2 linked regions of the Homo sapiens genome follow. The protein of the gene in region 2 interacts with the protein of the main gene of each other region in a biochemical or structural test. Each region holds a gene or a part of one and is shown on either strand. Other genes may lie near its edges.

Region 1 (3,824 bases), on a different chromosome or scaffold from region 2:
AAGAGTTGGAGAGAGTGCCCCACAACACCCCTGTGGGTAAGAATGTCACTCATTTCATCTTGTTCGTCTTACTAATAGGCACAAAAGTACCACAGCCTAGACACTGGTAGTGTTTTATTCTGAGGAAATGGCAAGGATTTCTCCCACAGTAGGATAGTAAAGCAGCAATCATGGATCCGTTTTTCTTCTTTCCTGTCCTTTGTCAAAAGTAACAACATGCTGGGCATGGTGGCTCGTGTCTATAATCCCAGCTCTTTGGGAGGCCAAGGCAGGAGGATCACTTGAGGCCAGGGTTTGAGACCAGCCTGGGCAACATGGTGAAACCCCCATCTCTACAAAAATTACTTTTAAAAATTAGCTGGGTGTGGCCAGGCACGGTGGCTCACGCCTGTAATCCCAGCACTTTGGGAGGCTGAGACGGGCAGATCACCTGAGGTCGGGAGTTTGAGACCAGCCTGACCAACATGGAGAAACCCCTTCTCTACTAAAAATACAAAATTAGCTGGGCATGGTGGCACATGCCTGTAATCCGAACTACTCGGGAGGCTGAGGCGGGAGAATTGCTTGAACCCAGAAGGCGGAGGTTGTGGTGAGCTGAGATTGCACCATTGCACTCCAGCCAGGACAACAAGAGCAAAACTCCGTCTCAAAAAAAAAAAAAAAAAAAATTAGCTTGGCATGGTGGCCTGCACCTGTGGTCCCAGCTACCAGGGAGACTGAAGTGGGAGAATCTCCTGATCCCAGGAGGCAGAGGCTGCAGTGAGCCAGGATTGTGCCATTGCTCTCCAGCCTGGATGACAGAGTGAAACCCAATCTCAAAAAACAAACAAAAAAAAGAGGCTGGGCACGGTAGCTCACGCCTGTAATCCCAGCACTTTGGGAGGCCAAGGCTGGTGGATCACAAGGTCAGAAGTTCAAGACCAGCCTGGCCAAGATGGTGAAACCCCATCTCTACTAAAAATACAAAAATTAGCCAGGCATGGTGGCAGGTGCCTGTAATCCCAGCTACTCGGGAGGCTGAGGCAGAGAGTTGCTTGAACCTGGGAGGCGGAGGTTGCAGTGAGCCGAGATTGTGCCACTGCATTCTAGCCTGGGTGACAGAGCAAGACTGCATCTCAAAAAAAAAAAAAAAAGCAATAAAACAAGTTCGTGCAAGGCTTTTCCACTATAAAGGAATCCTCTTCTCTTTTTTCCCTCTAGATACTTGTGTCCTTTTGTTCCTTTATGTTCATGGTTTTGTGTCTTGGCCACAGCTTTCCAGGCTAAATAACTGTGATTCTTCCTGCATTGATTGATCTGAGATATTTTGCTTACTTATTGGTCTGGAGAAATTTTTTGTAACAGACCTCAAAGCATATCTTGGTTTATTTTAGCCCTGCGGGAGGCAAGAAGCCTACAAACTGCTACTTCTGGACACTGACTGTTGATGATATGATGCTTTCTCTTGATTGATGGTTCTCCTGTCTTCATTCTCCAGATGTGACTCCCTGCATGTCTCCTCTGCCACATGACAGTCCTTTAATAGAGAAGCCAGGCTTGGGGCAGATAGAGGAAGAGAATGAAGGGGCAGGATTTAAAGCACTTCCTGGTAAGGGATTAAACATTTGTAAAGTATTTGCATCCTCCCTTTCCATATCATACCCTATTTTACAGCTATCCCCTACTGACCCTACCTTAGCATGTAAATGGGCTTGCTTTCTGTAGCATCTCATGTTTTGAAGTCTCCTCACCTTCACATGGCACAGATAGCAGCTATTCCTTGGTTTAGTTTTAGCATGGGTAATGACTGGTGAATGTTCTTCAGCACTTTAAACACCAAGTGCAGACAAAGTTTAGATAGCAGCTATTCCTTGGTTTAGTTTTAGCATGGGTAATGACTGGTGAATGTTCCTCAGCACTTTAAACACCCAGTGCAGATAAGGTTCGTGTGTCTTTCAGATTCTATGGTGTCAGTAAAGAGGAAGGCTGAGAACATTGCTTCTGTGGAGGAAGCAGAAGAAGACCTGAGTGGGACCCAGTTTGTGTGTGAGACAGTAATCCGATCCCTTACCTTGGATGCTGCCCCAGACCACAACCCTCCTTGCAGACAGAAGTCCTTGCAGAGTGAGTGTCCTTGCATTTCCCCTACCTAGCAGGGTGGCACCTGAATTGTGACTGCCAGACTTGACTAGTTAGATGTGCTCTTCTTCACTGAGACTGAAGGGAGAGTGATCTTAGTTAGAAGTTCTGATCTTGGCGGGGCGTGGTGGCTCAAGCCTGTAATCCCAGCACTTTGGGAGGCCAAGGCAGGCGGATCACAAGGTCAGGAGATCAAGTCCATCCTGGCTAACATGGTGAAATCCCATCTCTACTAAAAATACAAAAAATTAGCCTGGCGACGTGGCGGGTGCCTGTAGTCCCAGCTACTCGGGAGGCTGAGGCAGGAGAATGGCATGAACCCGGGAGGCGGAGCTTGCAGTGAGCCAAGATTGCGCCACTGCACTCTAGCCTGGGCGACAAAGCGAGACTCCATCTCAAAAAAAAAAAAAGAAATTCTGATCTTGTTTGTGTCTTTAGACTCTACGTATGCTACCTGACTGTTCTAATTAGAGCATCAGGAGTAAAGAAGCCATCATACTCATTTCTCCATCTTCTCAGGGGCAGAATTACAGCTGCATTCCACAGTGGAATAGCAGCCAGTTGTGCTGCCTGGATTCTGCAGTAAGGAATCTTCCTGTAATTTGACAGAGCTCCTTAGCAGAGACCCCTATGGGTAGCTGAGTTGTCTGCTTTCTCCAAGGGCAGCAGTCCCAGAAACAGTGGATAGAAGCAGGAGTACCAACAAAGTTTCTCAAGGTTAAATTCTGCTGTAATAAATACCTTTATAGGCCGGGCACAGTGGCTCACCCTTGTAATCCTAGCACTTTATGAGGCTGAGGCGGGTGGATCACCTGAGGTTGGGAGTTCGAGACCAGCCTGACCGACATGGAGAAACCCCATCTCTACTAAAAATACTAAAAATTAGCCAGGTGTGGTGGCTACATGCCAAGGATTACATGCCTGTAATCCCAGGTACTTGGGAGGCTGAGGCAGGAGAATCACTTTAACCCGGGAGGCGAAGGCTGTGGTTAGCCGAGATGGCGCCATTGCACTCCAGCCTGGCAACAAGAGTGAAACTCCGTCTCAAAAAAAAAAAAAGGAATAAATACCTTTATAACAGAAACTTCTAGGTATCAGATAGATAGAACCAATAGCATATATTTTAAGAAGTATCCAAAAATTCAAATATACTATGTCAAAATAATATTGGAGAATCTCTTTATTATAATCAAATTTGACCTATATCTTTAAATATTATTTATCTTACTTTTGTTTAAAGTATACATGTAAGGCCAGGCGCAGTGGCTCACGCCTGTAATCCCAGCACTTTGTGAGGCCGAGGCGGACAGATCACAAGCTCAGGAGTTTGAGACCAGCCTGACCAACATGGAGAAACCCCATTTCTACTAAAAATACAAAAATTAGCTGGGCGTGGTAGCGTGTGCCTGTGATCCAGCTACTCAAGACGCTGAGGCAGGAGAACTGCTTGAACCCGGGAAGCCAAGGTTGCAGTGAGCTGAGATCGCACCACTGCACTCCAGCCTGGGTGACAGAGCGAGACTCCGTCTAAAAAAAAAAAATAATAAAGTGTACATGTGGCCAGGTGCGGTGGCTCATACCTGTAATCCCAGCACGTTGGGAGGCCGAGGTGGGCGGATCATGAGGTCAGGAGATGAAGACTATCCTGGCTAACACGGTGAAACCCCATCTCTACTAAAAATACAAAAAATAAGCTGGGTGTGGTG
Region 2 (3,841 bases):
AGATTGTATAAAATAAAAATCTGTTTCTTGAAAATCTGGTAGAATTGAACAGGAAAACCATCTGGTCTTGGAATTTCGTTTTTCTTGGTGGGTAGATTTTAAAATACTGACTCAGGCTGTTTTAGCTATTATAGGTCTAGTCAAGATTTCTATTTCTTCATGTTTTTTAAAAAATACTTTTTTTTTTTTTTTTTTTTAGACTGTGTCTCTCTCTTTTTCCCAGGCTGAAGTAGTGGTGCACAATCTCGGCTCATTGCAACCTCCACCACCTGAGCTCAAGTGATTCTCGCATCTCAGCCTCCTGAGTGGTTGGGACGACAGGCAAGTGCCATCATGCCCAGCTAATTTTTTAAAAAAATTTGTAGGCCAGGGGTGGTGGCTCACGCCTGTAATCCCAGCACTTTGGGAGGCTGAGGCAAGCAGATCACGAAGTCAGGAGATGGAGACCATCCTGGCCAACATGGTGAAACCCCATCTCTACTAAAAATAAAAAAAATTAGCTGGGTGTGGTGGCATGCGCCTGTAATCCCAGCTACTTGGGAGGCTGAGGAAGAATCACTTGAACCCAGGAGGCGGAGGTTGCAGTGAGCCGAGATCGCGCCGCTGCACTCCAGCCTGGTGACACAGCGAGACTCCCATCTCAAAAAGAAAAAAAATTGTAGAGAAGGGTTTCTCCATGTTCCTCAGGCTGCTGTGGAACTCCTGGGCTTAAGCAGTCGGGCTGCCTCGGCCTCTCAAAGTGCTGGGAATACAGGTATGAGACACTGCCCTTGACCAAAAATAAACTTTATTGAAGTGAAACATATATACAGAAAAGTACACAAACCATGAGGATAAAACTTGATGGATTTTCAAGTGAACATACCCATGTAACCAGCAGAACAGAGTTTAAACAGAATGTTACCAGCACCCTAACTGTGCTTGTACCTGCCTTCGAGTCTGGAAAACCACTGACTTCTGGCAGGACAGATTTATAGATTTTTGCCTGATTTTATGCTTCGTATAAATGGAATTGTACAGTATATCCTTTTTTTGTGTCTGGCTCCTTTCATTCAAAATTATGTAATGTTCATCCATATTGTTGTTTATATTGTAATTTATTCATTCTCATTGCTGTATAGTATTCCATTGTATGAAAATACTACAATTTAGTAATTCATTCTACCATTCAGGAACTTTTGGGTAATTACTAGCTTTTGACTAATGCAAAGAGGGTTGCTATAAACATTCTTGTTTTTTGGTGAACATAGTGTACACAGTTCTTTTGAGTACATACCTAGGAGTGAAACTCCTGGTTCAGAAATACGCATATGTCTGGCTTTAGTACATACTGCTCAGTAGCTTTCCAAAGCGACTGTACCAATTCATACCCCCACCAGCAATGACTGGAAGTTTCAGTTGCCTTAAATCCTTGTTAACACTTGGTAGTCTTTTGTTCGTTTTGTTTTGGCCCTTCTGGTTGCCCATATAGTAGAATGGCATTGTGGTTTAAATAACTACTTAAATTTGTATACTTTCTTTTGTGAAATGCCTAAACAAGTCTTTTATTCTTTTTCCTATTCTGTGGCCTGCCTTTTTCTTATGGAATTGTAGTTCTTTTTAAATCTTGAGTGTACATTTTTAAATTACCTTCTGTGGCTTGATTCTTCACTCTTTTTTTTTTTTTTTTTTTTAGACAGTTTCGCTCTTGTCTCGAACTCATGACCTCAGGTGATCCACCTCCCTCATCCTCCCAAAGTGCTGGGATTACAGGTGTGAGCTACCGCGCCAAGCATACTTTTTCATTAAATATTTTAAAGATATATCCATATTGTTGCATGTGGTTATAATTTCACTAGCCTATGATGTATATTGTGTGAATATATCATAAATTATCCATTTTCCTATTGATATTTCATTGTTTCCAAATTTTTGCTGGCATGAACAACATTATGCAGACATTCCTGCATATATATGTGCATAAGAGTTTCTCTCATGTATATACTTAGGAGTGAGGTCACTTAGATCATAAAGTATGTGCATATTTAACTTTCTACAAGTGATTATACCAATACATACCCCTACCAGGATCATCAGACTTCTTAATTTTTGCCATCTAATGGATACAAAATTATCTCATTTTAGTTTTTCCTATTGTATGAAATATTTGTCTTTTGCACATTTTTTACAAACTGGGTTATTTTTCTTCTTATTGATTGGAAAGAGTCATTTACATGTTCTAGATCCTTGTTATATGTTACATGGGTTAGAAATAACTTTTTTGTTTTTGGTTTGTTGTACATGATCTTTTTGTTTCCCAACTTAAATAAAAAGAAGTTCTTAGAGATAGTTCACATACCACAGAATTCACCTTAAATGTGTTCAGTTGTGTTTTTTGTTGTTTTTGTTTTGTTTGTTTTTGAGACAGAGTCTGGCTCTGTCGCCCAGGCTGGAGTGCGGTGGTGTGATCTCGGCTCACTGCAACCTCCACCCCCTGGTTTCAAATGATTCTCATGCCCCAGCCTCCCAAGTAGCTGGGATTACAGGTGCACCACCATGCCTGGCTAATTTTTAAAAATATTTTTAGTAGAGATGTGGTTTCACCATGTTGGCCAGACTGGTCTGGAACTCCTGACCTCAAGTGATCTGCCCATCTCAGGGCCTCCCAAAGTGCTGGGATTACAGGTGTGAGCCACTGTGCCTGGCCAGTTCAGTAGTTTTTAGTACATTCACAGAGTTGTGCAGTTATCACCACAGTCCAGTTTTAGAACATTTTCGTTATCCCCAAAAGAAACCCTGTAACCCGTTCCTTCTCCCCCAGTCCATAGCAACTACTAGTCTTCTCACGTGCACTCTCTCTCGATCTCTCGCTATTTTTTTTTTTTTTAACAGAGTCTTGCTCTGTTGCCCAGGCTGGAGTGCAGTGGCATGATTTCAGCTCACTGCAACTTCCGCCTCCCAGGTTCAAGGGATTCTCGTAACTCAGCCTCCCGAGTAGCTGGGACTACAGGTGTATTTTTGTATTTTTAGTAGAGGTGGGGTTTCACCATGTTGACCAGGCTGGTCTTGAACTCCTGACCTCAAGTGGCGCACCCACCTTGGCCTCCCAAAGTGCTCGGATTACAGGCATGAACCACTTCTCCTGGCCTCTACTTTATATATTTCTATAGATGTGCCTATTCTGCGTATTTTTAAAATTTTATTTATTTTATTTTTTGAGACAATATCTCACTCTTGCTCAGGCTGGAGTGCAATGGTGCAATCTCAGCTCACTGCAGCCTCAACCTCCCTGGCTCAAGTGATCTTCCCTCCTCCCTCCCTCGAGTAGCTGGGACCACAGGTGTGCACCACCATGCCCCAATAATTTTTGTGTATTTTGGTTGAGATGGGGTTTTGCTATATTGCCCAGGCTGGTCTCAAACTCCAGACGTCAAGTGATCCACCTGCCTCGGCTCCCCCAGGTGCTGGGATTACAGGCGTGAGCCACAGTGCCTGGCCTATTCTGGGTATTTTAATAAACAGAATCATAGAATATATGACCTTCTGTTTTTATTTTCTTTTATTCAGCATAATGTTTTCAAGTTTCATTCATGTCATAGCATGTATCTGTACTTCATTCCTTTTTATTGCCAAATAATATTCCATTGTATAGGATATACCACATTTCCTTAATCCATCCAGTGATGGACATTTGGCTTGTTTCCACTTTTGGCTGTCATCAGTAATGCTGCTATGAACATTTATGTACAGGATTTTCTGTAAACATGTTTTCATTTCTGTTGGGTATATACCTAAGTGTGAAATTTCTGGGTCATATGGTAACTCTGGTTAATTTTTTGAGGAACTGCCAAATTGTTTTCCA

Evidence for each region.
Region 1: the proteins of USP8 (region 2) and NBR1 form a complex in vitro, tested with the Homo sapiens proteins (one study listed by BioGRID).

The regions. Positions count from the first base shown.
Region 1 is NC_000017.11:43,195,004-43,198,827, forward strand, and holds part of NBR1 (next to BRCA1 gene 1 protein), read left to right. Parts: coding exon 1-36; intron 37-1,477; coding exon 1,478-1,588; intron 1,589-1,938; coding exon 1,939-2,103; intron 2,104-3,824. UniProt on the Homo sapiens protein: Ubiquitin-binding autophagy adapter that participates in different processes including host defense or intracellular homeostasis.
Region 2 is NC_000015.10:50,511,351-50,515,191, reverse strand, and holds the end of USP8 (ubiquitin carboxyl-terminal hydrolase 8), read right to left. Parts: 3' UTR 771-3,841; downstream 1-770. UniProt on the Homo sapiens protein: Hydrolase that can remove conjugated ubiquitin from proteins and therefore plays an important regulatory role at the level of protein turnover by preventing degradation. Converts both 'Lys-48' an 'Lys-63'-linked ubiquitin chains.